Regions from separate parts of the Homo sapiens genome. Here all the other regions are linked to region 2. The links come from fine-mapping of genetic effects on gene expression. A gene starts in region 2. Each other region holds a variant in brackets. All regions are shown on one strand. Distances are between the middles of the regions.

Region 1 (8,350 bases), 170 kb after region 2:
TCTTATTGGCTCCACATTTGTGAAGTGTATGCTTTGATTTAACTGACATGTCTATTTTCTTTCCCAGTTTCCTTAAAACTATTTGAAATGCTTTTAGCAATTGACCAGCCAGGGTGAGAGATGCAGCCTTCAGCTGTAAAGTAGAAACAATTACCTGGGTCTGCAAGGAAGCAAGTCCGTGGCCTTGACTTTGTTAGTATCCCATCTCCATCCACAGAGCTATGGATCTAGGACTGTTTCATGGCATGTTAAGTGAATAAAGATAAGCTCTGGGGGCATCATTACTCATACTATTAACAGACAATTGTGTGCATTTTTTTTTATTTTGCAGATGACAGACTAGAAATCTGAAAAGATAAATAACTGTACAAGGTCTTCCAAGTTGCCACTCATCTGTATAATGTTCATTTTCCAGGGAGGCTGGGGAAGTTAATAATGGAACAGCTTACTCTCTGCTGCCACTCAGAGATACTTGAATTTCTCAAAGGGAAGATAAAAATACAAGAATAACATATTTTTGACCTACTTCTTCCTTTGCAATCTGAGGGCCTTCGTTTCCATGTTAATTTTCCCCTTTTGATATTAAATAGAGCTCTTTTAGGCTGACAACTATATATTTTAGCCCAGTAAATATTAAACAAATTATTGATAAATGTTCCTACAAGAAATAGTTAGATGATGTGGAACTAGCTATTTCTTCTAGAATCAAGACCATAGAATAGCTAAAATCACTGTCATAGGACTGAATGTAAAAATTTAAGTTGCTGACTATAGTAAGTATAAATTAAGATAATATCACAACACAGGGGCTAACTTTAATTTCACTATTATTTCAAAACCTATTCTGTAAAGACACTAATTTTCACCTTTCTCTTTTTTTTTTTTTAGTCATGGACTCCTGCCCTGTAGGTCCTTCTGTGAGGCTGCAAAAGAAGGCTGTGAATCAGTCCTGGGGATGGTGAATTACTCCTGGCCGGATTTCCTCAGATGCTCCCAGTTTAGAAACCAAACTGAAAGCAGCAATGTCAGCAGAATTTGCTTCTCACCTCAGCAGGAAAACGGAAAGCAATGTAGGTGTCTGTGTTTCATTTCATTTTTAGAAGATTTTATTTGAGTATGCCATTTATACAGGAATGGATATAAATAATAAGTGTACAGTCTGATAAATTTTAACCAAGTGACAAGATCCATGTAACCAGAACCCAGATCAAGGAATAGAATATTAACAACATCCCCAGAAATGCCTTCAAGCCCGCTGCCTGTCATATCTCACCCTTCCAAAAGAAACCTCTATCCTTACTTCTATCACCTTAGTTTTGCTTACTTCTGAACTTCATATAAATGGAATCATACAATATGTAACTTTTTAAAACCTGTCTTCTTTTGCTCAGCATTATGTTCAAGAAATTAATTACATCTTCATATTGTGGTTCATTCATTCTCATTGTTATACAGCATTCTAATATATGATTGAACCAAAATATATTTTTCCATTTCACTGTTGATGGACATTTGCATTGTATCCAATTTTCAGCTATTACAGTGATGCTATTACTATTCTTGTGCATGTCTTTTTTTTTTTTTCTGGAGACAGAGACTTGCTCTGCCACCCAGGCTGGAGTGCAGTGGCATGATCTCAGCTCACTGCAACCTCTGCCTTTCGGGTTCGAGCAATTCTCCTGCCTCAGCCTCCCGAGTAGCTGGGATTATAGGTGCACGCCATCATGCCTGGCTAACTTTTGTATTTTTAGTAGAGACATGGTTTCGCCATGTTGGCCAGGCTGGTCTTGAACTCCTTATGTCGTGATCCACCCACCTTGGCCTCCCAAAGTGTTTGGATTACAGACATGAGTCACCGTTCCCAGCCTCTTGTGCCTGTCTTTAATTGAATATGGTTATATTTATTCAACAAAAAAGTTTTCTAAAGTGGTTGTACCAATTTATGCTCTTACCAGCTCCTTATAAAAGTTGTAGTTGCTCCAAATCCTTCCCAATCTTTAGCATTGTCAGTCTTTTTCATTTTAACAATTTTGATGGGAGTATTGTGAAATGTCTGTCCAAATATTTTGCCTATTTTTTGATGGTCTGTCTTTTTGTCTTCAGTTTATAGTTTTGTATGAATTCTGGATACAAGTCATCTGTTGGATATATGTATTGCAAAGATCTCATGCCCTATGGCTTGCCTTTCTACTCTTATTAGCATCTATGATGGAATAGAAGGTCTTAATTTTAATGGGTCCATAATATCAATCTTTTCTTTTGTGTTTTTTTTTTCTGTGTCTTAAGAAATCTTTGCTCACCCCCAAACATAGAAGTTTTTCTCCTATGTTTCTTCTAGAATCTTTATTGTTTTGACATTCAGTTTTACATCTACTATAATTCTGGAATTATTTTTTGTGCATGGTGAAAGGTAAAAGATAGGAATTAATTTTTTTCTATGTGTATATTCAATTGACCCACCACCATTTAATTATTTAGAAGACAATTTTTCCCTCTGCACTGTAATATCACTGCTGCTATCAATCAAGTGAATGATTACATGTATATCTATTTTTGAACCCTCTAATTGACAGAATAGAATTAAGACAATACCACACTATCTGGATTACTATAGTTTTATAGCATCTTTATATTGAATATTATATGTCCTCTATCTTTGTTCTTCTTAAAGATTGACTATTTTTGGCCCTTTGCGTTTAATGTAAATTTTAAAATCACTATGTAATTTCCACAAATGCTGTTTTTGTTTTTGTTTTGTTTTTAAATTGGGACTGCATTAAATATATAGATCAAATTCAGGAAAATTTCTTTACAACAGTCAGTCTTCCAACCATAACAATTATATACTATGGTAATATTTAAGTAGGTATTTTCAATGAGGCATTTTAAAATTTCTCTCAATTATGTGTTATAGGTTTAACCATAGAGATCTTGCACATCTTTAGATTTATTTGTGGTATCTGGTATTTTTGATGTTATTGTAAATTATATATTTTTAAAACATTTCCTTTATTTTCTGTTTTTATGTATCCAAGAAATTTGATAAATCACTCAACAATTTTTATAATTTGTCTGTAAATTCATTTGAATTTTCTAAGTACACAATCATGTCATCTAAAATAATGACAATTTATTTCCTCCTTTTCAGTCATTCTGCTTTCTGTTTCTTCTATGTCAGGAAGAAGGTTTTCAATATTTCACCTTTAATTCTGATGTTTGGTGAAGGGTTTTTAGGATACTCTTGGTCAGATTAAGGAAGCTCTTTCTATTTGTAGTTTGCTAAGACTTTTTAAAAAATCCTGAATGGGTTTTGAATTTTATTATTTTTTTCTATATCTATTAAGATGATGTATTATTTTTTCATATTATGCTAGTTACCTTTTAGAAATGCCAGCTTTACTGAGATCATTCACATACTATAAAATTCATCTCTTTAAAGTATATTATTAAGTGGTTTAGTATACACACAGAATTGTACAACCATCATAATCATCTATAATAATTTCAGAATGTTTTTATCACCCTAGAAAGAAACCTACACGCATTAGCAGTAAATTGCTATCCCTCTCCTCAGCCCCTGGTAAACACTAATTAACTTTCTGTTTCTATAAACATGACTATTTTGGACATTTAATATGAATTAAATCATACAGTATGGGACTCTTGTGACTGACTTCTTTCACATAGCAAAATATTTTCAGGGTTCATATATGCTGTAGCATGTATTATTAGTACTTCATTCATTTTTATTGTCAATTGATACTCCATTGTAGGAATATACCACATTAAAAATCCATACATTAATTGAGGAATATTTGGACTGTTTTCACTTTTGGACTGTTATGAATAATGCTGTCTGTATAATATTTGCGTATAAGATTTTGTGTTTTTGTGTGGACATACTGTTTTAATTCTCTCAGCTATATACCTAGGAGTAGAATTGCTGTGACTAGTATTAACTCTATGTTTAACATTTTGAGGAAATGCCATTCCTACAAACAATGT[A/G]TGAGGGCTCCAGTGTTTCCACATTTTCACCACACTTGTCTCTTTTGTTTATAGCTGTCCTAGTTGATGTGAAGTGGTATCCCATTGTGGTTTTGATTTGCAGTTTGCTAATGACTAATTATGTTGAGCAACATGTCATGTGCTTGTTAGTGTTAGCCATTTGTATGCCTTATATTGAGAAATATCTATTCAAATACTTTGCCCATTTTAAAATTAGGTTGCCTCTTTAAATTGTTGAATTGTCAGGTTCTTTATATATTCTGGATGCAAGTGTGCCTTTTAAGCTATATAATCTTCAAATATCTTCCTACATTCTTCGGGGGCTGTTTTCATTTTAACAACAGTTTTTAACTTTGAGGAAGTCCAGTTTATCTGTCTTTTCTTTTGTTGTGTATGCTTCTAGTGTATGTATTTTAAAAATTGGCTAATACAAGGTGACTAATTATTTATTCCTTTGTTTTCTTTTAAGATTTTAATAGATTTAGCTCTTATATTTAAGTCATTGATCCATTTTAAATTAACTTTTCTGTATGTTGTGAAGTAGGAGTCCAACTTCTTTCATTTGCGTATGGAAATTCAGTTGTCCTAGTATGTATTGTTGAAGAGCTATTCTTTCCCACTGAATGGACTTGGAGCCCCTTGTTAAAAAACAATTGGCCATAGATGTATGGGTTTATTTCTGGACTTTCAATTATTTTTTATTGATCTATCTATCTTTCTTGATTACCACAGTTTGCAATACATTTTGAAATTATGAAGTGTGCATACTTTAACTTTTTAAGGATTACTTTAGCTATCCTGGGTCCCTTGCCTTTCTGTATAAATTTTAGGATTAACTTGTCAATTTCTGAAAAAAATTCAGCTATAATTTTGATAAAGATTACATATGTAAATATACCATTCAATCTTTGCTAAAAGAGCTGGAATGGCTATACTAATATTTGATCAAATAGATTTTAAAACAAAATTGTTATCAGAAAAGAGGAGGGATTTTTTAATGATAAAGGGTCAATTCGTCAGGAAAACATAACACAGAGCCAGAAATACTTAAATCTGACAGAACTGAAGGAAAAATAGACAATTCAACCATAATATTCCACTGTCAATAATGAGTAGAACTAGGTAGAAGATTAAAAGGGAAATACAAGACTTACAAAGCACGATAAACCAATGAGATCTAATAGACATCTGTAGTACACTCCACCCAGCAATAGAAAATATGTGTAAACACATAGGCACCTAAAAATTTCCATTTTTGAGCTTACAACCTATTTGTGTTTCTGAATATAAAGTATGCCTTTTACACACAGTATATAATTGAATCTCATATTTTTATCTATGAGACAAATCTCTGCCTTTTGATTGTAGTGTTTAATTCATTTACACTTAATGTAATTATAAGTATTTGCATATGCTGTTTTGAAATTTGTTTTCTCTATGACTTTTGTATTTCTTGATCCTTCATTACTGACTTTTTTTGTGTTAGATATATTGGGGTGTGCCATTTTAAATTTCTTGTTGCTTGGCTATTTTTTTTAGTTATTCTTATTGGTTGTGCTGGAACTTAAAATTAACGTCTTAAGTTATAACAGTCTAGTTCAGATGAATCCTAACCGAATTTCAACAATATCTACACTTTGCTTCTGTATAGCTTTGTTTCTTTTTCCTTCTTTGTACCATTATGTATACAAATTACATCTTTATATAATATAATCTCAACATAGGTTTATTGATTATGATTATAAATTATTTATGCAGTTGTTTTTAAGAATCAGATAGGATAATAAAAGATTTATAGAAAAAATACATTTCTTTTATCTTACTTTTACCTATTTAATTACCTCTACCAATACCTTTTATTTCTTCATATGGATTCAAGTTGCTGTATACTGTCCTTTTATTTTATCCCAAAGGACTTCCTTTAGTACTTCTTACAGGGTGGTTCTGTTAATAGCAAATTCTCTCCACTTTTGTTTATCTGGGAATATCATAATTTGTCTTTCATTTTGAAAGGATATTTTGCTGTACATAGAATTTCTGTTTGACAGTCTTTTATTTTCAGCACTTTGAATATGTTATCCCACTTCCTTTTGGACTCCTCAGTTTGGATGAGAAGTCAGATGTTAACCTTTCTGAAGCTCCATTTTATCTGATGAGTTGCTTATCTCCCAGTGTTTTCAAAATTTTCTGTGTCTGATTTTTGATAGATTAATTACAATGTGTCTAAGTGTAGATCCTTTAGAGTTTATTTGAATTTTTGTACTTCTTTGTTATGCAGATGTATGTTTTTCTCCAAATTTGAGAAGTTTTCAGCTATTATATCTTCAAACATTCTTTCTGACTCATTCTTTTATCTCTTTCTGGGACTCCCATTATGAGTATGTTGGTACATCCTCCAAGTCATTAAGGACCTTTTAATTTTTCTTCTTTTTTTTCTTTCTGTTCCTTAGACTAGATAATCTCAGCTTACTTATCTTAAAGTTTGCGGATTTTCTCTTCTGCCTGATCAAGTCTGCTGTTAAGTCTTTCTAGTAAATTTTTAATTTCAGTTATTATATATTTTACTGCATAATTTCTAATATTTTAAAATAATCTATATATCTTTATTAATATTTTGTATTTTTTGAGCCATTGCTCTTATACTTCCCTTTAGTTCTCTAGAAATGTGTTCCTTAGTTCTTTGAATGAGTTAAAATAACTGATTTAAAAGTCTGTCCAGTAAATTCAATGTCTGAGCTTCCTCAGGAACAGTTTTTGTTGACTGTTTTTTCCCCCTCTATATGGGCATATGTTCCAGTCTCTTTGGACATCTTGTAATTTTTTGTTGAAAGTTGGACATTTAAAATAATATAATGTTCAACTCTGCAAGTTGAATTCTTCCCCCCAACATTAGTTGCTGTTTCTGTTTCTTGTTGCTTTAATTATTGTTATTTATTTGTTCAGTGAGTTCCCTGAAACAAATTATGTTAAGTTTGTTCTTTGTCATGTCTGGCCACTGAAGTTTTTGCCCAGATAGCAGCCTAGTGGTCAACTAATGGTTGGACAGAATTTCCTTAAATGCCTTTAACAGGTATATATCCTAGTCTTTGCCAAGGGATTCTGTGCATGTTAGGGTGCATAGTCAGTACTGTAGCAGAGTCGACACTATAGCAGAGTCAATGCTATAGCAGTCAATACTATAGCAGAGTTTACAGCTCTGCCTTATCCTTAAATTTCTGCTTGTACAGGGTCTCAATGTCTGCCACAGGTGAGATATTTGGGCCTTTCTGGGTCCTTCTTAGGTATATGCATAGTCCTGCACATTCATGGGATCTTCTAGATTCTCAGCAATGTATTAGAGCTTTTCAAATTTTCCTACAGGAATTCCCCACATTTTTCTTTTAATTTTTCTGGTTAGCTTCTTGTTTGCCCCAAGTGATATCCCCACCTCAGACAGTTACAGTGTTAATCGATTATTAATTTTTTTTTTTAGAAACACCCCGGGGAAAAGGCTTTTGCACTGAGTAAGCTCTTATTCAGGTCAAATAATCACATTTGCTCTGAGTTTCCAGGGAGCTAACAGACAAGAAAAATAATGACAATTCTTTGGTAATGGGGCATTGTGGAGAGCTCCAAGCATGTTTTGCCCCTTCTAGTGGCTGCTTGGCTGCTAGTTTTCACAGCTGATGTAGTTGTGAGGTTATCTAGATCAATAACCATATCTTATCACCTGCTTTCTTAGACCATGTCTGACACTAGGTGCTAAAAGTTGAGTTTTCTGCAAATAGTAACTGAGATGGAGTTTGGTGTACAGAGTATTTATTAAGCTTCAGCCTTTGTGTTAAGGGAGGGAGAGAAAGCAGAATTGGGCAGAAGGAGTTGAAATATGATCCAGGCCCACCAAAGCCTCAGCTAAATCCTTGGGGAGTTCTGGAATGTATTAAGCCTACAAGAGTTATCTCATGTTGATCCAAAATAGTTGAGTCTATGTGTCTCCACCTCAATCAGTCATTGGATGTGGTCCTTCCTGGGAAGAGTGTGCCACTGAGTGAGGCAGATCTCTTCAGTGTTCCACAGCTGAGGCAAAACCCGAAGGATCTGACAGCTAAAGGCAGTGGGCCAGCAAATGTAGCAATAGATTCTTGAAGGGTAGACATATATGGCCAGATCGTATATGTGATATGGGCCAGACACATATATGATCACACGTATGTGCCACATATATGATCACTAGGCACATATGGGGCCAGATAGCCTTAATTTAATCAGAGACTAAGCTGATTTTGCCTCATTGTTATAAGGCTCCGTCTACCTCTGGTTTTTCTCCATTCTGAGAGTGTGGTTCTCCAGTAGTCTCAACTGAGAA
Region 2 (8,350 bases):
CTGAATTCTACCAAGGTACAAAAAGTTGCTGGTACCATTCCTTCTGAAACTATTTCAATCAATAGAAAAAGAGGGAATCCTCCCTAACTCATTTTATCAGGCCAGCATCATCCTGATACCAAAGCCTGGCAAAAACACAACAACAAAAAAAGAGAATTTTAGGCCAATATCCCTGATGAACATCCATGTGAAAATCCTCAATAAAATACTGGCAAACCGAGTCCAGCAGCACATCAAAAAGCTTATCCACCACCATCAAGTTGGCTTCATCCCTGGAATGCAAGACTGGTTCAACATACGCAAATCAATAAACATATTTCATCACATAAATAGAACCAACGACAAAAACCACATGATTAACTCAATAGATGCAGAAAAGGCCTTCAACAAAATTCTACAGTCTTTCATTCTAAAAGCTTTCAATGAATTAGTTATTGATGGAACGCGTATCAAAATAATAAGAGCTATTTACGACAAACCCACAGCCTATATCATACTGAATGGCAAAAACTGGAAGCATTCCCTTTGAAAACTGGCACAAGAAAAGGATGCCCTCTCTCACCACTCCTGTTCAATATAGTATTGGAAGTTCTGGCTAGGGCAATCAGGCAAGAGAAAGAAATAAAGGTGGGTATTCAATTAGGAAAAGAGGAAGTCAAATTGTCTCTGTTTGCAGATGGCATGATTGTATATTTACGAAACCCCATTGTCTCAGCCCAAAATTTCCTTAAGCTGATAAGCAACTTCAGGATACAAAGTCAATGTCCAAAAATCAAAAGCATTCCTATACACCAAGAACAGACAAACAGAGAGCCAAATCATGAGTGAATTCTCATTCACAATTACTACAAAGAGAATAAAATACCTAGGAATACAACTTACAAGGGATGTGAAGGACCTCTTCAAGGACAACTACAAACCACTGCTCAGCGAAATAAAAGAGGACGCAAACAAATGGAAGAACCTTCTATGCTCATGGATAGGAAGACTCAATATCGTGAAAATGGCCATACAGCCTAAGGTAATTTATAGATTCAATGCTATCCCCATCAAGCTACCACTGACTTTCCTCACAGAATTGGAAAAAACTACTTTAAAGTTCATATGGAACCAAAAAAGAGCCCACATAGCCAAGACAATCCTAAGCAAAAAGAACAAAGCTGGAGGCATCAGGCTACCAGACTTCAAACTATACTACAAGGCTACAGTAATCAAAACAGCATGGCATTGGTACCAAAACAGAGAGATAGACCAATAGAACAGAACAGAGGCCTCAGAAACAACACCACACATCTACAACCATCTGATCTTTGACAAACCTGACAAAAACAAGAAATGGGGAAAGGATTCCCTATTTAATAAATGGTGCTGGGAAAACTGGCTAGCCATATATAGAAAATTGAAACTGGATTCCTTCCTTACACCTTACACAAAGATTAACTCAAGATGGATTAAAGACTTAAATGTAAGACCTAAAACCATAAAAACCCTAAAAGAATACCTAGACAATGCAATTCAGGACACAGGCACGGGCAAAGACTTCATAACTAAAACACCAAAAGCAATGGCAACAAAGGCCAAAATAGACACATGGGATCTAATTAAACTAAAGAGCTTCTGCACAGCAAAATAAACTATCATCAGAGTGAACAGGCAACCTACAGAATGGGTGAAAATTTTTGCAATCTATCCATCTGACAAAGGGCTAATATCCAGAATCTACAAAGAACTTAAACAAAAGTACAAGAAAAAACAACCCCATCAAAAAGTGGGCAAAATATATGGATAGACGCTTCTCAAAAGAAGACATTTATGCAGCCAGCAGACATATGAAAAAATGCTCATCATCACTGGTTATCAGAGAAATGCAAATCAAAACCACAATGAGATACCATCTCACGCCAGTTAGAATGGCAATCATTAAAAAGTCAGGAAACAACAGATGCTGGAGAAGATGTGGAGAAATAGGAATGCTTTCACACTGTTCTTGGGAGTGTAAATGATTTCAACCATTGTGGAAGACAGTGTGGCGATTCCTCAAGGATCTAGAACTAGAAATACCATTTGACCCAGCAATCCCATTACTGGGTATATACCCAAAGGATTATAAATCATGCTACTATAAAGATACATGCACAGGCATGTTTACTGAGGCACTATTCACAATAGCAAAGACTTAGAACCAACCCAAATGTCCATCAATAATAGACTGGATAAAGAAAATGTGCCATATATACACCATGGAATACTATGCAGCCATAAAAAAGGATGAGTTCATGTCCTTTGCAGGGACATGGATGAAGCTGGAAACCATCATTCTCAGCAAAATATCACAAGGACAGAAGACCAAACACCACATGTTCTCACTCATAAGTGGGAGTTGAACACTGAGAACACATGGACACATGGAGGGGAACATCGCACACAAGGGCCTGTTGCAGGGTGGGGGGCTGGTGGAGGGATAGCTTTAGGAGAAATACCTAATGTAAATGACAAGTTGATGTGTGCAGCCAACCAACATTGCACATGTATACCTATGTAAGAAACTTGCACATTGTGCACACGTACCCTAGAACTTAAAGTATAATAAAAAAAAATTGTTTTGACGATAACAATACCTACTTCATGGTTATTGTGAAGATTAGATGAGTAAAAGAAAAAAGGACCTAGAAGAATGCTGGCACATAGAAAGCACTCAAGGATTGCTGGTCACTGTTATTAGCTATTGAATATTTGAGGGAACAGAAAAAATTTCTCAATAAAGTTTGACATGGAAATTTAGATAATATGCTAGTCCAGCTCTCTGGCATATAACATAATTCTAAGAAGGATCTCTCTTTTTAGTAGCCACTCAATACTTCTTGGACATTACTCAGTGATAATTACTATATTCTCTCTCAGAGTATAACAGCTCCTTTCCTGTATGTGAAAACCCCACTGAAGAAAAGTCTCACTTTAGGGTTTTCAAACTTTGAAAGCTGGTTGCAGCTTTAAACTTACAGTTCTTATACAAGTGCAGCATTAAGAGAGTTGCTGTGCACCTGTTAGTTTCTAGCCAATGAAGTTATATCATTCTCAGAGATGTTATTTCTTTTCTTCTTTTCATTTTTCTGAGACGGAGTTTTGCTCTTTTGCCCAGGCTGGAGTGAAGTGGCGCGATCTTGGCTCATTACAACCTCCGCCCCCTGGGTTCAAACAATTCTCCTGCCTCAGCCTCCCTAGTAGCTGTGATTATAGGCACCCACCACCATGCCCAGCTAATTTTTGTATGTTTAATAGAGACAGGGTTTCGCCATGTTGGCCAGGCTTGCCTCAAACTCCTGACCTAAGGTGATCCACCCGCCTTGGCATCCCAAAGTACTAGGATTACAGGCGTGAGCCACCATGCCTGGCCATGGGATGTCATTTTTGAGTTTGGTTAATGTACAGGCAATTCTGCAATATCTATGTTTAAGACATTAAAAGCATGGTTTCTAATACTAGACTACTTAGGATTGAATCTTGGCTTCACTACTTCCTAGCTGTATGATCAAGGGCAAATTGCTTAATCTCTCTGTGCCTCAGTGTTCTCAGTTGTAAAACGGGGATAATAAACACGGTTACTGTGAGTACCAAATTAGTTAATACATAACGTAAAACACTTTAAACAGTGCCTGACATCTAATAAATGCTATCTAAATATTATAATAGAAATTTATGGTTAAAATAGAAGAATTAACTAAGTTGAAGGACTGTACAATAAGCCATCAATATGTTTCTCAATCCCAGACAGACCCCAGAATGAATTTTTGCAATCTACCTGTCAGTATATATGCACATGTATCTTATTGGAAAACTCAGCAAAATCATAAGATTTAGGTCCTGGCCCTCAACTATTTTCCTTAACAAAATCTACTTTAGGGAGATGCTGTGAAGGTAAAAATTAGCATGTCCCAGGGAAAGCTCATTGCACACTACAAAGGACTATGACAATAACAGGCTTTAGATTTATTTTCTACATTGGCTCTAGCATTTTAGAAGGGTACTTTTACTACTCAAGCCACTTTCCTGCAACTCTCCCCCGAATTTCCCTCCTTCACAGTGGCCAACCTCAAAGCGTTTTCAATGTAAGTGCCTTTCCTGTTAGTGAGACTTCCCTATGAAAATAAATAGTTTAAAGGTTGTTGGAGCCTAAAACTCACTAAGCCTGGAGAGAGATGTGACTGTCATCTGAGTTACACGTGGTTACAACTTCTGTTTCTCAGATTATAGATTAACTTGCTTTCTTATTTTTCTTGTTCTATACAATGGCTAGAGAGAATTAAACGAAGTTAAGGACAAAAACTTCCTGCCTTCTTAATGATCCTTATAGATTAACTTCTGCTTTGTTGCCCCGGTTTGCTTAGACCAGATGACAGAAAATCCTTTATGAAAAATGTTAAATGTACACTTCCCAAAAAGAAACACTGTCTATAATCAAATTGTTGTAACTATTCTCTAACCTTGTATGAGAAAATGCTGTAATCCTGCTAAAAAACCTCTCAGTTTCTGCCTATATAAGTGAAATCTTAAATCTCTACTTCGGAACGCTGACTCCTTCCTTGGAGTCGGTGTTTCTAGGTAGGCTATCCTCAAACTTCGCGCTTTTGATTATTTTACATTGACACCTCCTGTCATCCGCAAGCTCAAAGGCAAGGCTAATAAAAGATGGCAGAGAGCCAATTAGGGACAGAGCCATGTAATCCTCATACCCAGGTGAGTTTAGGGCAGTCTTGCAGAAGCAGAAGCAAATTGTGGGGTCACGAAACCCTCCGGACCCGCCCGCCTCCACCACCACGCGCCCCTATGACCTTCGACCCCTCCCTAGCCCCAGAGCACGCCGGGAGTTGTAGTTCCCAAAGGCCTGTTCGGGCCAGCGCAGGCGCTTGGGGTTTCCCTCCCACCCAACCCCCGCACTTTACCGGATAAGGAAGCGGCCCGTGCTGCCACGCAGTCGCCGGAACGCGGGCGGGGGCTTCTGGGAGTTGTAGTCTGTTGGGGGCGTGCGCAGTCGGTAAGGAGACGTAGCTTTCCGTGGGGTGTACCACTGCAGTTGGTTCCCGGCGGGAGACGCAGGGTCAGTCTGTGACTCTTCCCCTACCACGCTCCCGCAGAGGCTGAGGAGGCGGTTTCGACTTCTCCTCCGGCTTTCTGTCTTCGGCACTGTGTGCTTCTTGCTCCGCGGTTTATTTCTGTACCTAGTCCTCCCTCCCCTCTTCGGTCCATCTCCAAAGCCCGGGCTTGGCGGGGACTCGCCCTCCGGTAAAGGCAGGGCCGCGACCTCCTAAAACCCGGTCGCCGCCCTGCAGGAACCTTCCTCACTCGGCCCCTCACACCGGGTTTCCGCACTGACCCTCCTTCGCCTCGGTCCTCGCTGCGCTCACCTCCTTCCACTCTTTTTTTTTTTTTTCTCCTTTGCAGGGATGGAAGCTTCCTGGCGCCAGGTGGCCGGTGGCCGAGGCCGATCCCGGGGACGGGCCACTGCCGCCCCCTCAGGAAATGGAGTCCATCTCCGCGGCGCCGGAGGAGGGCGAGAGAAGGGGTCGGTGGGCGCAGTTCCTTCTGGCACCAGTCCCGGAGGAGTCGCGACCACGGCGGCTGCAGGGAGCAGGCACAGCCCCGCAGGATCCCAAGCCCTGCAGACTACCGCAGCCAGCGGTGAGAATGGCTCCCGCCCGCGTGCTCACCTGGATGCCTCCTAAGGCAGTTACTAGTCAGGACCGCCTCCGCCCTCGCCTTCTTTCTTTCACTGCTTTTCCCCTCGTTCGGGAGTTTGTTATCGGGCCCACTTCTCCAGCCTTTCGGGTGGCTGCTCTTTTCGGCACTCTAGGTAGATTTCCATCGCACCTCTTTCATCTTAATTTTAGGTGGTATTACCTTTGTTACTTCCCTCCACTCTTGCCTACTTGAATCTCCAGACCATCAGTTGTAAATTGTGGCCCGGTGTTCTGATTTGGTCTATAATGTTGTTTGGTTAACACAGAGTTTTAAATGTGGATTGATTGTCAGCGGTTGTTTGTCGTTTTTAAAAATCTGGTTAACAACCTTGTGGCTTTAGTTATCTTTGTGCATGGCAACAGTCAGCTCGGCTGAGTCACAGAAATCCCATTTAGATTGGACTTGGGCATTCCATCTCACATTCTCTCTCATTTCTGGAGCCAGGTGTCATTTGTCATCTTTACCTTTGCCTTTGTTTCTTGACTTGTCTTATTCCTTGTAAGCACTTGAGCTTTTGATACCTTCCTTGACTGTAGTTCCTATTTACAAATTCCATGTCCTTCTGTGGACATATCTGGTGTTGCCTCCGATATATCAATACTTTTCATCCAAGACCATGTTTTCGTGGAGCCAGGGAGGACTTACACACAATTGTGCATGGGGCCGAGGGAATAATCCCTGAAATCATTTTATTTTTGTGTTTGGAATGCATTTCAGGATACATTTTTTTGGGGGGTGTGGAGCAGAATTGAGTATCTTGAATGATTTTTCTCCTAGGCTAATTTGAAAGGTAGGTGGTATTCTCTTAGCATGCAGTTAATGGCCGTGATGATAAGGTATACAATATGGAGACGTGTGAACAGGTTTGGTAAACTTTTTTTTTTTTTTTTTTTTTTTGAGACAGAGTCTCGCTGGTCGCCCAGGCTGGAGTGCAGTGGCGCAATCTCGGCTCACTGCAAGCTCTGCCTCCTGGGTTCAGGCCGTTCTCCGGCCTCAGCCTCCCGAGTAGCTGGGACTACAGGCGCCTGCCACCACGCCTGGCTAATGTTTTGTTTTTTGTTCTTTGGTTTTTTTTTTTTAGTAGAGACGGGGTTTCACCGTGTTAGCCAGGATGGTCTCCATCTCGTGGGTAGAAGGAAAACAAGCATTCTGTCCGGGCGCGGTGGCTCAAGCCTGTAATCCCAGCACTTTGGGAGGCCGAGGCGGGCAGATCATGAGGTCAGGAGATGGAGACCATCCTGGCTAACAGGGTGAAACCCCGTCTCTACTAAAAATACAAAAAATTAGCCGGGCGGGGTGGCAGGCGCCTGTAGTCCCAGCTACTCGGGAGGCTGAGGAAGGAGAATGGCGTGAGCCCGGGAGGCGGAGCTTGCAGTAGCCGAGATTGCCCCACTGCACTCCAGCCTGGGCGACAGAGCAAGACTCCGTCTCAAAAAAAAAAAAAAAAGAAAGAAAAGAAAAAGAAAACAAGCATTCTCTACCTGGACAGTTGAGATTTGGCTGTAAGAAATAATACGTGAGAAGGTTGTCTTGTCAGCTTCTCTTTACTTTGAGATGATGTTAGGTGAATACATTTATCAGGTTATGAATGTTCTCATTATCTCTGTCCAGTTCAGCCTGTTTTCTTATGTATCTTTTAAGTGCTAATTTCCCGTATATTAATGACATTTATCATCTCTTTTGTGACAAGTTTTGAGTTATATATCTCATAGCCAGTTCTTTTTTCCCAGTACTCAAAGCTTGCTAGGTAAGCATGATACACATTTTCGTCGAGGTTTACTTGAAATACTCAATTTGTTTTGTTAATAACCCCTAACCAAACTGGCTGCAATAAGAAAAGGAAAATGTTTCATGAGGGAACATAATCAAGTACGAATATACCACCCAAGATAAGAGAGCTTATCTTGGTAGTGGCTTATCAGTTTTAAGTATAATGTTAATTTTAAAATAGTCAATCAGTAAATTTAAAATCCTCTCAAGATGGGAATTCATGAACTCAGATCAGTTCTGCAGGTTTGTGGCTCCTTTCTTAAACTATGTTTGCTGTCCGTAAGAGCTTATTAACACTTAGTGCTTGAAGAAAATCCCTGTGGTCCTTGCTCTCAAGAAGTTTGAAGTTTCTTTGGGAGTATGTGCAGTGAAGTAATCTGGTTTTGTTTTGCATGATTAATCAAGTAACAAAATGAGAAGTACAGGTAGTGCTGAATAGTGGAAGAACGAATCCAAAATTAACATTCTTTTTGGAATGAAGTTGGAAGAAACATGTTTTCCATGTTAATACTTTGTGTGGATTAATGTAAAATATGTTTTTTTGTGTGACCACAAGAAGTCCATAATAAAGGCAAAAAGTTCTTGACCTAAGAAGCCGATTGTAAATATAGTGGGTGCATAGTGAGTACTGTTGGTACAAACTCTTTGGTAGGGCTGGACTGGACTGGGCTGGGCCGTCGTGTCCTATCCTACCTGTTGTTCAGAAGACGGTAGTTTGAAATACCTACCTTCCCTGATTCTTTATGTGCTCACTGTGGACATGTTCCCTCACTTCTTAAAAATTACTGTGCACAATGTACTTTAAAACATCTTAATTTTTGTTAGTCCTTATTTTGAAGTTGAT
Region 3 (5,000 bases), 33 kb before region 2:
TTGGGAGTTACTGGCATTGAGGTTGGTTCACTTAAGCTAATTCTTGGTATGAACATTGACTGATATGCATTTACTAACCATGTCCATTTTCATAATGTTATGAAGAAATACCCGAGACTGGTTAATTTATAAAGAAAAAGAGGCTTACTGGACTCACAGTTCCACATGGCTGGGGAGGCCTCACAATCATGGCAGAAGGCAAAGGAGGAGCAAAGTCATGTCTTACATGGTGGCAGGCAAGAGAGCATGTGCAGGGGAACTGCCCTTTATAAAACCATCAGATCTTGTGAGACTTATTTACTAGCACGAGAATGGCATGGGCAACACCCACCCCTATGATTCAATTACTTCCCACTGGGTCCCTCCCGTGGCATGTGGGGATTATGGGAGCTATAATTCAAGATGAGATTTGGGTGGGGACACAGCCAAACCATATCACTATGTTTGTTCAAGACACTGGCATTTGGCAAGTCATGCTTCATGGAGGCTCAGGATATACTTTTATGCTTTATGCTTCATAATATGTTTTTGAAATATCTATCATCTACATAGTCTTTAGTAATGAGTAGAAATGGAGAAGAATTTGTTTTTTCAGACCATTTGCCTACCATGGACATTATACAGATGGTGACTACTGTGATTTCACTGCATGTTTTTCATTTCCCAGGGAGCAGTACCTGCCTGGTGCCATTGCACTTTTTAATGTGAACAACAGCAGCAATAAGGACCAGTAAGTATATTTACAATAGAAAACCAAAGTTTTGGTTTTAAAGAAAACCAGTAAAAATGTAGGAATATATCTGAATCTGTTATAGAGGAAACATTTATTAATCAAATGATCTAATACAATGGCAATGATAGTCTTATCATTTTGTTGAAAAGTAGTGTTCATTCATTTATTTGAATACATGTAGAAAAAATCATGTCTATAGTGTTCATGCAGTTGACTTTCTCTGTGAATAGAGTGACTGACAAAAATAAGTGAATTTTTGTCAGGAAATATTACTCCTTTCCAGTTTGAGCCAATGTGTCTTAGGTGAATTTCCTCAGGAGACAGTTTCTGAGATGGAGGCTTGTATGCAGAAGTTTGTTGGGAATGGTCTTGGGAACAATATCTGGAAGGGAGTTGGGGGTCAGTATTGGGCAGAGGGAGAAGTCGAACTTCAGAGAATAGAGCTGATGTACAATGTGATTCTCTGGGGATCCCTGGAGCAGGGATGACCTTTTAGAGTTGTCCCTATTTAGGTAATAGACTTGGGCCTTTGTTCCCATGCACAGTTATTGGAAAAAAGTTGGCCCTAGAAGATGGAGCATAACCATCTGGATGGAGCATGGTGGTTTCCTTCAGCCAAGGCCAGCCAAGGGAGAGGAAAAACTGAGCTGACAGCAACCAACACTCTTGGCAAGTGGGGAATGAGTGCCTGAATTTTGTGCACCACCTGCATAGCCACTGTATGGCCCAACCGTGTGCTGCCCAGATCCATTTTGTTTATATAGAAAATTCACCCCATGTGGGAATACCTACTCCAGGATCCTGGTTATTTTTTCCTGAGAAAGCTTATAAGAGTAAAGTTAATGGGATTAAACTAAGGTCTCTGGCAGTTGCAGGTGGTTTTGAGGCCTCAAATGAAATTCTTCACCCTCTCCGCTTCTACTCATTCTAGGGTCCTCTCACCCTTAGCCAGCACATCTGCTGGTCTAGATGACTTAGCTGGTGGAACAGTACAGACACTCATCCCTGAAGAACTTGAGCCCTGGGTCACCATGCCCTTCTTGAGTCATGGCTACAGTACTTGCCCATTTACCACCAAAACTGGGCTGGAAAATACCAAAAGACCACCTAGGTGCAAATACATCTCCCCTCCCTGCATTGTATACAGCACTGCCTACTTCTGATGATCACGGTCAATAACTTTTGCCAGTGTGGTGACTCTCTTCCTTGCCTGTTGGGCATGA[G/A]GGGACCAAAGTGGCTGGGGAGTAGCCGTAGCTTAATGTTTAATGGAACTCTGGCATTCCCTGGCAGATGCATCACCCCTCTGGAAGCCAGGACCTCTAGATCCATAGATCCTTAAGTTGCAAGAATGGGAAACATACCTTTCCTACATTTGTCACCCCTACTTAGACCCCATAGTTCCCAGACCAATGCATTCTATACAGGCATAGAGAACCATACAATGATCATTGTTTTAGCATATATACAGTATCCTAGAGGATGGCACCTTTTCTTCCTAGAGTATAAACTCTATGATAGCACTTCAGCTGTGGTTTCAAAAAGTCCCTCCTTAACTATCATGTCAGTAGCTGACAAAGGTGTGCAGCTTATGATAGGACCACTGGATCCCAAACTCAGGTTCCAATGCCACATTTTTTTTTTTTTGCCTTAAAGTGGGTCCTTGGTCCAAAGTGATGTTAAGCAATATTTCATATATAGTGATCATGCTTCATATGCCCCTAAATAATGGCACTGGTCAAAGCCCTGTGGCAAAAAAGCAAATGAATAGTCATAATATATGTCAGTTCTTATCAATATATTTGATGCCCCTTCCATGGTGTCAGGAGTCCAATTTAGTTAACTTGCCATCAAGTGACTGATTACTTTCCTCAGGAGAAAGCACTGTTTTGGAGTCATAGCATTGGTCTCTGTAACAGGCATGTTCACTACGAGCAAAAAACAGACAAATAAAAACAAAGATTTTCAAACTTTGTGCTCACACTCATAATATGTCCATTCAGTCTGCCTCTTCTGAAATATTTTCCCTGATCTTTCCATCGTTTTCCATCCAGGTCCCTGACCAACCAGTCAAGGCATTTGTGACTGCCCACGAGTCCTTTTACACATGTATATTCTTAATTTGGGCTATTTCTTTTTCCCTTTTTTTTTCTTTTCTTTTTTGAGACAGGTACTCACTCAGTTGCCTGTGCTGGAGCGCAGTGGTGCAATCTTGGCTCACTGCAGCCTCCATCTCCCGGGATCAAATGATCCTCCTGCCTCAGCCTCCCAAGTAGCTGGGATTACAGGCGTGAGCCACCACGCCTGGCTAATTTTTGTATTTTTAGTGGGGTTTCGCCATGTTGGCCAGGCTGGTCTCTAACTCCTTGGCCTCACGTGATCCTCCCACCTCAGCGTCCTAAAGTGCTGGGATTACAGGCTTGAGCCATCGGACCCAGTCTGGGCTATTTCTTTTTCCATACAAACTAGATGACTGTATACTGCTTGAAGCTGTGCCATTGGGGAAATTAACCTCACACTTTCAAGACCACCTCTAAGTGAGGCTGTGGTGCAGACACAGACCATTTTGGCTTGCATCCACATTCTAAACTGACCCATCTATGCAACATGCTGTATCAGCTCCTTCTAAAGAACCCCACATATGACCACAGGTGGGGGCTGATAAATAGGTGCTGAGTGGAAAATGACATAGTGGAAAATAAATGGAAATTTCCAACGTGGAAATGACATAAAGAAGGGTACTGAAGGCCGGGCATGGTGGCTCACACCTGTAATCCCAGCACTTTGGGAGGCCGAGGCAGGCAGACCACCTAAGGTCAGGAATCGAGACCAGCCTGGCCAACCTACATGGTGAAACCTCATTTCTACTAAAAATACAAAAATTAACCAGGTGTGGTGGTGCACGCCTTTAGTCCCAGCTACTTGGGAGGCTGAGGCAGGGGAATCACTTGAACTGGGAGGCAGAGGTTGCAGTGAGCCGAGATTGTGCCACCGCACTCCTGCCTGGGTGACAGAGCAAGACTCCTCAAAAAAAGAAAGAAAGAAAGAAAGAAAGAAAGAAAAAGACGAAGGGTACTGAGCCACCTGCCTGGGCAGCTTACTTATTTGCTCTGATTCATGCTCAATCCCAGATATCTTACTTCATCATATGACGGATTGATACATTATGAATTGTTGTTTCTGACAGAATCCATCTCATAATGGGCATTCTTTTTATGTCCCATGGTTAGGTAATCCTATTTCAGGGCCTGACTAACAGAATGCCATTGATGCAGATATAGTGGACTAATGTGGTGCTCTGAGAAATGTCCACGTGATCCAGGTCCCTCAAGGCTGTCATGACAGTAGGAAAGAAAGTTAATATAGCCTTGGAAAAGAGTGTAGGTGTGTACAGTTTGTTATCCCCTGTGAGTATGAGCTATGTCTGATCCTCTTTCCTGATAGTAATGAAAAATGACATTCACAATGACTGACCCAGAACCTTAGGTATGCAGTGTATATCAAGTGAATGCATTGTTTTCCACATATGACACAGCAGCTGCAATTGGGGCTACTACTTGGTTGATTTTGCAATTGTCTATTGCTATCCATTAGGATCCATTTGGTTTTTGCAGGGGTCTGATGATGAATTATGTGGGGAAATGAAGAGCGATCACCACCCCTGCATGCATTAGGTCTTTAAGGATGGCATTTCTTTTTCTCCCCAGGATGCAATGTTGCTTTTGGCCAGAAGGTGGGAAGCAGCTTAAGGGCTTCTCCTCGGTCTTACACCTCTTTCCTCACAAGCCAAGGAACTAGTGGGGTAGGGGTGGGAGTTGTGCCGATGACCAACTATATACATTTCCCTTTTGTATTCAGGAATTATGTACATTACACTTATACATTTAGGAACTGGAGAAATGATCACAGAGTGGGTCACTGTGTTATTTTCCACATAGGACATGTCAGCTGCAATTGGGGCTACTACTTGGTTGATTTTGCAGTAGTCTCTCTGCCATCCACTAGGATCTATTTGGTTTTTGTGGGAGTCAGATGATAAATTACATGGGGAAATTAAGAGAGACCACCACTCCTCCATGCATGATTTTATACAATTATATACATTTCTCTTTTATATTCAGGAACTTATATACATTCTACTTTTATATTCAAGAATTACATACATTTCACTTTTACATTTAGGAACTGGAGAAATGATCACATAGTAGTGGGTCTGTGGACCCAGTGGGAAACACCATAAGTCATATCTCATCCAGGAATCTATTATTAC
Region 4 (8,350 bases), 83 kb before region 2:
AGTCTTGTATCTATTAAACTTTCTCTACTACAGTGTTGTGGTCTGTCTTTACAGAGTGGGGCTTGAGGCTTTTTGCAAAAATGTTGCTGTCCAGCCTAGTACTGTACCTAGCTTATACTTGGTAATCTTTTTCTCAATCAGTCTAGTTAGGAGGTTTTCAATTTTATGAATCTTTATAAGAACTAGCTCTTACCTTTATTGATTTTCCTTACCTATTTTTAAATTTTAATTGATATCTACTCTTATTTTTATTACCTCCTTCCTTCTACTTGGAGTTTAATTTGCTATCCTTTTTCCAGTTTCTAAGGTGAAAGTTTAGACTTTGATTTTAAACCTTTATTCTCTTTCACTACAAATGTTTAAAGCTAACATTTGCCTCCAAATACTGCTTTAGCTCCATCCCACAAATTTTGATATATTGTGTTTATTAATAATGTTTATTATCATTTAGTTCAAAATATTTTAAAGTTTTCTTTGCAATTTCTTCTTTGACCCATGGGTTATGAAGGAATGTGTTCCTTGATTTCCAGATAACTGCAGCTTTTCCAGATATCCTTCTGTTATTGGTTATCAGTTTAATCCTCTTTTGGACACAGAGCATATTCTGAACAATAATAGTTCTTTGAAATGTGTTGAGATTTGGTTTATGGCCCAGCATATGATCTGTCTTGGTGGATGTTCCAAGTTAAATAGAAAAGAATGTGTATTCTGCAGTTGCTGGGTGTAGTGTTTTAGAAATGTCAATTGGGTTAAGTTGCTTGCTCTAAATGTAGTTTATTGCCAATTTTTAAATTTGTTTAACTTGGTCATTAGATACAAACACAAGTAGGATTATTATGTCTCCTTAATTAATAGACAATTTTATCATTATTAAATGTCCCTGTTTATTCTGGTAATACTTTCTGATTTGGAATTTACTTTGTCTGATATTAATATAGCTAAATCAGCTGTGTTATTAGCATTTTTTTAAACAGAGTCTTGCTCTGTCACCCAGGCTGGAGTGCAGTGGTGCAATTTTGGCTCACTGCAACCTCCACCTCCCAGATTCAAGTGATTCTCTTACCTCAGCCTCCCAAGTAGCTGGGATTACAGGTGCATGCCACCACACCTGGCTAATTTTTGTATGTTTAGTAGAGATGGGGTTTCAACATGTTGGTGAACAGGCTGGTCTCGAACTCCTGACCTCAAGAGATCCACCTGCTTTGGCCTTTCAAAGTGCTGGGATTACAGGCCTGAGCCACCGTGCCCAGCCTATTAACATTTATTATTATGACATGCCTTTTTTTTCCCTTTACATCTAACCTATCTGTGTCTTTTTATTTAAAGCTTATTTCTCATAAATGACATTTAGTTGCATTTTACTTTTGTAACCAATCTGAAAATCTTTGCTTTTAATTAGCCTTTTAGTCTGAGTACATATTTTATAAAAATTGATGTGGTTAGATTCAAGGCTAAAGATTGGTACCTTTGATATTTCCTATAATGTAGATTTGCTGGCAATAAGTTCTCCCAGTTTTTGTTTGTTTGAAAAAGATGTATTTTGCCTTTATTTTCAAAAGCTATTTTCCCTAGGTACAAAAGTATAAATTAACAGTATTTCTTTACTTTCAGCACATTAAAAATACTACTTTGTTATATTCTAAGCTTACATTGTTTCTCATTTACAAGTCTGTGATTATCCTTCCCACCCCCCCGCTTCCCCCACTGTATGTAATGTGCCTACTTTCTCCCTCTGGCTGTTTAATTTTTTTAAAAAATCACTTATTGTTGCTGGGCACGGTGGCTCACACCTGTGTTCACAGCACTTTGGGAGGCTGAGGTGGGCAGATCACCTGAGGTCGGGAGTTCAAGACCAGCCTAACCAATCTGGAGAAGCCCCGTATCTACTAAAAATACAAAATTAGCTGGGGTGGTGGCACATGCCTGTAATCCCACCTACTTGGGAGGCTGAGGCATGAGAATCGCTTGAAACTGGGAGGCGGAGGTTGCGGTGAGCCGAGATCATGCCATTGCACTCCAGCCTGGGCAACAAGAGCGAAACTCTGTCTCAAAAAAAAAAAACACTTATTGTTAGTAATTGGGCTTTTATTTGCTTTGAAGTGATTTTATTTGTTTTTATTCTGCTTGGGGTTCATTGAAATTCTTGAATATGTAATTTTATACTTTTCATCAAATTTGGAAAATTATTGGACATTATTTCTTCAAATATTTGTTTTTACCTCCTTGCTTCTAGGGTACCAATTACACATGTTGATCCAATTAATATGGTTCCATGAGTTACTAAGATTCCAATGTTTTATCTCTTTTTGCTTTATTTTGGCAGCTTCAATTGCTATGTCTTCACATTCACTGATTTTATCATCTACATTTTCTATTCTACTGAACAGACATCTAATAAATTTTTAATTTCAGATATTTTAATTTCTAGAAGTTCTGTTATTTTTTCCTGTGTTTTAAATTTGTTTGTTGATTATATAAATGATTTATTTTGAATTCTTGAGCATATTTATAATACATATTTTAATGTCCTTGTTTGCTAATCCATTATTATTATTATTAGTTTTGAAATGAAATCTCTCTCTGTCACCAGGCTGGAGAGTGCAGGAGCATGATCTTGGCTCACTACAACCTCTGCCTCCTGGGTTCAAGTGATTCTCCTACCTCAGCCTCCTGGGTAGCCGGGACTACAGGCGAGTGCCACCACACCTGGCTAATTTTTGAAGTTTTAGTAGAGACGGGATTTCACCATTTTGGCCAGGCTGGTTTCAAACTCCTGACCTCAGGTGATCCACCTGCCTCGGCCTCCCAAAGTGCTGTGATTACAGGTGTGAGCTACTGTTCCCAGACATATGCCATGATTTCTGTCACTTCTGGGTATGCAGCTATTGACTGATTTTTTTCCTGATTATGGGTCACATTTTCCTGCTTCTTTATGTGTCTAGTAATTTCTGATTGAATGCCAGACATTATTAGTCCATATTGTGAAGTGTTTGGATTTTATTGCCTCCTTAAAAGAGGGGAAGGAATTTGAATTATTTGCAAATTAGTTTGATCCTTTATGAGCTTCTTTTAAGACTTATATGGCAGATTGAAAGTATCATAGCTCTCTTTTATCTGCAGGGAATATGTTCCAAGACCCCCAGGGGGTGCCTGAAACCATGGACAGTACCAAATTTTATATACACTATGTATTTTTGCCTATGATAAAATTCAATTTATAAATTAGGCATGGAAAGAGATTAACACCTGATAATAAAATTGAACAATTATAACAATATACTTTAAGAAAAGTTATGTGAATGTGGTCTCTCTCTCTTTCTCTCAAAACATCTTATACTATATTCACCTTTTTTGTGATGATATGAGATGATACAATGCCTATGTGATGAGACGAAGGAGGTGAATGACTTGGCATTGTGAAATAGCATCAGGCTACTATTGACCTTCTGATAATATGTCAAACTTATGAATTGTTTATTTTTGGAATTTTGCATTAAATATTTTAAGACCATGCTCAACCACAAGTAAATAAAGTTGTTGAAAGTAAAACCACAAATAAGGGGGTACTGTATCCTTTAACCTAGAGTTAGGTTAGCCCTGCTATTGAAGTGTGGCTTTTCATGTAAGCATTTAAATTTTTTATTTATTTATTTATTTTTGAGATGGAGTCTCGCTCTGTTGCCCAACTGGAGTGCAGCAGTGTGATCTCTGCTCACTGCAACTTCCACCTCTGAGGTTCAAGCGATTCTCTTGCCTCAGCCTCCTGAGTAGCTGGGACTGCAGGCATGTGCCACCTTGCCCAGCTAATTTTTTTTGTATTTTTAGTAGAGACGGGTTTTCACCATGTTGGTCAGGCTGGTCTCGAACTCTTGACCTCAAATGATCTGCCCATCTCAGCCTACCAAAGTGCTGGGATTAAAGGCATGAGCCACTGTGCCAAGTCCATGTAAGCATTATTAATGCCTGAG[G/A]TCTTCACTGAATCTCTCCAGTCTACAGGTAGTAACTTGAATATCTCCAAGGTCTGTGTGAGTTTTGGGATTATTTAACTGTTAATACCTTGGAAGTTATTCTTTGTCCAGTCTGTGGAATTTTCATTTATGCATGTCCAGATTAGCATTCCACAAAGACTGGAAAAGACCTCTCTGCAGATTTCTGGTTCTTTCTCTACATTGCTTCCTCTTCTCTAGTACTTTGCTCTGAAAATTCTGGCTACTTCAATCTCCAAGGTCATATTTCTGACTCCTTAGCTAAACAAGACTGCTGGGCTGTGCTTGGTTTATTTTTCTCATGTCACAGATTAAAAATGGTCTTTGGACAGGGTTCAACTCATTTTTCCCCCATTTCTCTAATGCCATACTTCTGTTGTTGTTTTGTGCATTTTGTCCAGTTTGAAGTCAAGCTACTTTTTCATGAGCAAAAACTTAGACTACAGTATACAGATGTTCCTTTACTTATGATGGTTCATCTTATGATTTTTCTACTTTATGGTGGGTGTATTGGGGTATTAAATGCCTTTTCAACTTATGATTATTTCAATTTATGATAGGTTTATTGGGACATAATCACATTTTAAGTCAAGAAGCATCTATTGTTGATTTGTGGGAGCCCACTGCAATGTTTGAATATAATATTTAAAATTCATGATTTATTTGTGAAGCTGTCTCATTTTATAAATTGTGTTGAGACAATGCAAAGTTTGTACAAGTAGGAATTTATAAAAATTACTACAATCTGTAATGACTCAAAGCGTTGTGAAACAGCACTACCACCAAATAATGTAAAATCTTGATTATCACAATATATTTAGTATTTTTCTGAGAAGGCAGAAAAGTAAATTATATATAATACATAATAACTTACATTTATGTATATCTCTATTTTATTACTAATATGAGTACCCCTGACCCATCAACAGACCTAACCAGACATGTACAATAATAATTAAATCCAGTTGTCTTTGACATTTTGCTAGGTTTTAATCATATTAAAATCATTGCTTTATAGATTTTTAATATTTTGGTTATGAAGGTTTGTTTTTCAAGGTGAGGACAAAAACTCATTTTAACAGCTCATTAGTTTGATTTTAAATATTTAGTAATGTAGTACATAGATATCCATTTGTTTTCTTGCCCCAGTTCTGTTAATGTTAGGGGTAGGCCTGTGGAAGAAGTGGCAGCAGCAACAAAAGTTAGGAGGCTTATATCACATAGATAATTTGTCATGTCTGAGAAAGCTAAATTGAAAGCCAGTTTTGGGGAAGGGTAATAAGCAACAATATTTCCACTATGGACTCTGCAAAAGTCTTCAGGTATATTTAAGGCACAACATTATATAGGTTAGCGTGATTTCATATTTACCTAAGTTTTTGTTTTTTTTCAGACAGAATCTCACTCTGTTGCCCAGGCTGGAGTCAAGTGGCACAATCTTGGCTCACTGCAACCTCCACCTCCTGGGTTCAAGTGATTCTCCTGCCTCAGCCTCCTGAGTAGCTGGGGGACTACAGATGTGTGCCAAGCCCAGCTAATTTTTTAAATTTTCGTAGGGATGCAGGTTTCACCATGTTGGCCAGGCTGATCTCAAACTCCTGACCTCAGGTGATCCACTCACCTCGGCCTCCCAAAGTGCTAGGATTACAGGCATGAGTCACTGTGCCCAGCCCCTAAAAGACTTAAAATCTTAAAATTTTCAGGTACAACCATACTCTCTTCCCCAATAATTTTTTTTCCTTACTCTGGATTTCTTTGAGCCCTTTGTATTTGATTATGTTATTTAACCAGAAACTTAATACAATTACAATGAATTATTTAATAATAAGCTCCAGGAACTATCTCACAGGAAAATAATAATAATCTTAATATTTACTGTAATTAAGGACTCAATTTGTGCCAGGCCTGGTGTGAAGAGTTTTATGTCAATCATTTCTATTTACCATACCTTGATTAGAAGAATCTATTCCCATTATGCTAATAAAAAATGGCAACAACAAGGTTCAGGGCAGTTAAATAATTTTCCCAAGGCTACAGTGCTGTCAGAAATTAGCAAACCAGGATGCAAATCTAAATTAGCAAACCAGGATGCAAAATCTAAACCAGGATGCAAATCTCAAGTCCACTAAATTTCCAATATTCCAAGGAGCTATCAACATCAGTTGCAAGTCTCTGAGGCCACCCCAATCATGCTGAGGGCTGGAGGACTTACTCCCTAAGAGGAGGGATCATGGTGGATGGGAGGCAGGACTAGATTGCAGCTCTGACTCAGATAGACAGAGCAGTGTGTGGAGGCTCGTGTCATGAATTTTTGCACCAGAATGACTGTAGGAATAAATCAGGAAACCTGGGAGTACCCAGAGACCTCTCTGAAGGAAGTGGATTGCTCCTTCAGGACCCAGGAAACACTCCAAATACTGTACTGGTATCCCCAGATGAGAGACCCACAGATGGTTTATGTAACAGGACTCTGTGCAGACAACCCCTAGTACCAGCCCAGAGCCTGGTAGACTTGCTGGGTGGCTAGATCCAGAAGAGAGATAATAATCACTACAGCTTGGCTCTCAGGAAGCTACATCCATAGGAAAAGGGTGAGAGTACTACATCAAGGGAACACCCTGTGGGGCAAAAGAATCTGAACAACAGCCTTCAGCCCTAGACCTTTCCTTTGATAGAGCCAACCCAAATGAGAAGGAACCAGAAAACCAACTCTGGTAATATAAAAAAACAATGTTCTTTAACACCCCCCAAAAATCACACTAGCTCACCAGCAATGGATCCAAGCTGAGAAGAACCCCTGATTTACCTGAAAATGAATTCAGGGGGTTAGTTATTAAGCTAATCAGGGAGACACCACAGAAAGATGAAGCCCAATTTAAGGAAATAAAAAAAAATGATACAAGAAGTGAAGGGAGAAATAATGAAATAGATAGCAAGAATAAAAAGCAATCAAAACTTCAGGAAACAATGGACACACTTAGAGCAATGCAAAATGCTCTGGAAAATCTCAGCAACATAATTAAACAAGTAGAAGAAAGAAATTTAGAGCTTGAAGACAGGGTCTTTGCATTAATCCAATCCAACAAAGACAAAAAAGAATAAGAAAATATGAACAAAGCCTCCAACAAGTCTGGCATTATGTTAACCAACCAAATCTAAGAATTCTAAAAGTTTGGAAAACATATTTGGGAGAAGAATCTAGGAAAATTTCCATGGCCTTGCTAGAGACCTAGACATCCAAATACAAGAAGCACAAAGAACACCTAGGAAATTCATCACAAAAAGATCATCACCTAGGCACATTGTCATCAGGTTATCTAAAATTAAGACAAAGGAAAGAATCTTAAGAGCTGTGAGACAAAAGCACCAGGTAGCCTATAAAGGAAAGCCTATCAGATTAATAGCAGATTTCTCAGCAGAAACTGTACAAGCTAGAAGGGATTCTATCTATCTTCAGCCTCCTCAAACAAAACAATTATCAGCCAACAATTGTGTATCCAGTGAAGCCAAGCTTCATATATGAAGGAAAGATACAGTCTTTTTCAGATAAACAAAAGCTGAAAGAATTCACCACTACCAAGTCACCACTACAAGAACTGCTAAAAAGAGCTCTAAATATTGAAACAAATCCTGGGAACACATCAAACAGAACCTCTTTAAAGCATATATCTCACAGAACCTATAAAACAAAAATACAATTTAAAAAACAAAAAACCAAAGTATATGGGCAACAAGTAGTACAATGAATGGAATGGCACCTCACATCTCAATACTAACATTGAATGTAAATGGCCAAAATGCTCCACTTAAAAGATAAAGAATTACAGAATGGATAAGAATTCACCAACCAACTGTCTGTTGCCTTCAGGAGACTCACCTAACACATAAGGACTCACATAAACTTAAGATAAAGGGGTGGAAAAAGACGTTTCATGCAAAATGACACCAAAAGCAGGCAGGATTCTTACATCAGATAAAACAAACTTTAAAGCAACAGCAGTTAAAAAGACAAAGAGGAACATTATATAATGATAAAAGGCCTTGTCCAACAGGAAACTATCACAATCCTAAACATATATGCGCCTAACACTGGAGCTCCCAAATTTATAAAGCAATTACTAATAGACTTAAGAAATGAGATAGACAGCAACACCATAGTAGTGGGAGACTTCAGTACTCCACTGACAGCACTAGACAGGTCATCAAGACAGAAAGTCAACAAAGAAACAATGGATTTAAACTATACCCTGGCACAAATGGACTTAACAGATATATACAGAACATTCCTTCCAACAACTGCAGAATATACATTCTATTTGACAGTGCATGGAACTTTCTCCAAGATAGACAATATGATAGGCCAC

Evidence for each region. PIP is the estimated chance that this variant, and not a neighbour inherited with it, causes the effect.
Region 1: its variant is fine-mapped to the expression of NFXL1 in whole blood (TOPMed, PIP above 0.99).
Region 3: its variant is fine-mapped to the expression of NFXL1 in whole blood (INTERVAL, PIP above 0.99).
Region 4: its variant is fine-mapped to the expression of NFXL1 in whole blood (INTERVAL, PIP above 0.99).

What each region holds. Positions count from the first base shown.
Region 1 is chr4:47,737,122-47,745,471 of GRCh38, reverse strand. CORIN (corin, serine peptidase) reads left to right here. Exons shown (of 22, transcript NM_006587.4): 5 at 889-1,070. Among named protein-coding and RNA genes, the nearest start is that of MIR8053, 89 kb to the right of the region's middle. The variant A/G (reference allele first, on the strand shown) is at 4,006.
Region 2 is chr4:47,911,295-47,919,644 of GRCh38, reverse strand. It overlaps NFXL1 (nuclear transcription factor, X-box binding like 1), which reads left to right and starts at 5,062. Exons shown (of 23, transcript NM_001278624.2): 1 at 5,062-5,280; 2 at 5,440-5,676. The coding sequence starts at 5,442. LOC101927157 (a long non-coding RNA gene) reads right to left here and starts at 5,418. Exons shown (of 3, transcript NR_125879.1): 1 at 4,941-5,418. RefSeq lists enhancers at 5,082-5,311, 4,822-5,507, 5,508-6,194.
Region 3 is chr4:47,945,563-47,950,562 of GRCh38, reverse strand. It overlaps CNGA1 (cyclic nucleotide gated channel subunit alpha 1), which reads left to right. Exons shown (of 11, transcript NM_001379270.1): 6 at 668-730. All of the region lies in intron 1 of LOC101927157 (a long non-coding RNA gene), which reads right to left. Among named protein-coding and RNA genes, the nearest start is that of NFXL1, 33 kb to the right of the region's middle. The variant G/A (reference allele first, on the strand shown) is at 1,957.
Region 4 is chr4:47,994,086-48,002,435 of GRCh38, reverse strand. All of the region lies in intron 2 of CNGA1 (cyclic nucleotide gated channel subunit alpha 1), which reads left to right. Among named protein-coding and RNA genes, the nearest start is that of CNGA1, 18 kb to the left of the region's middle. The variant G/A (reference allele first, on the strand shown) is at 3,969.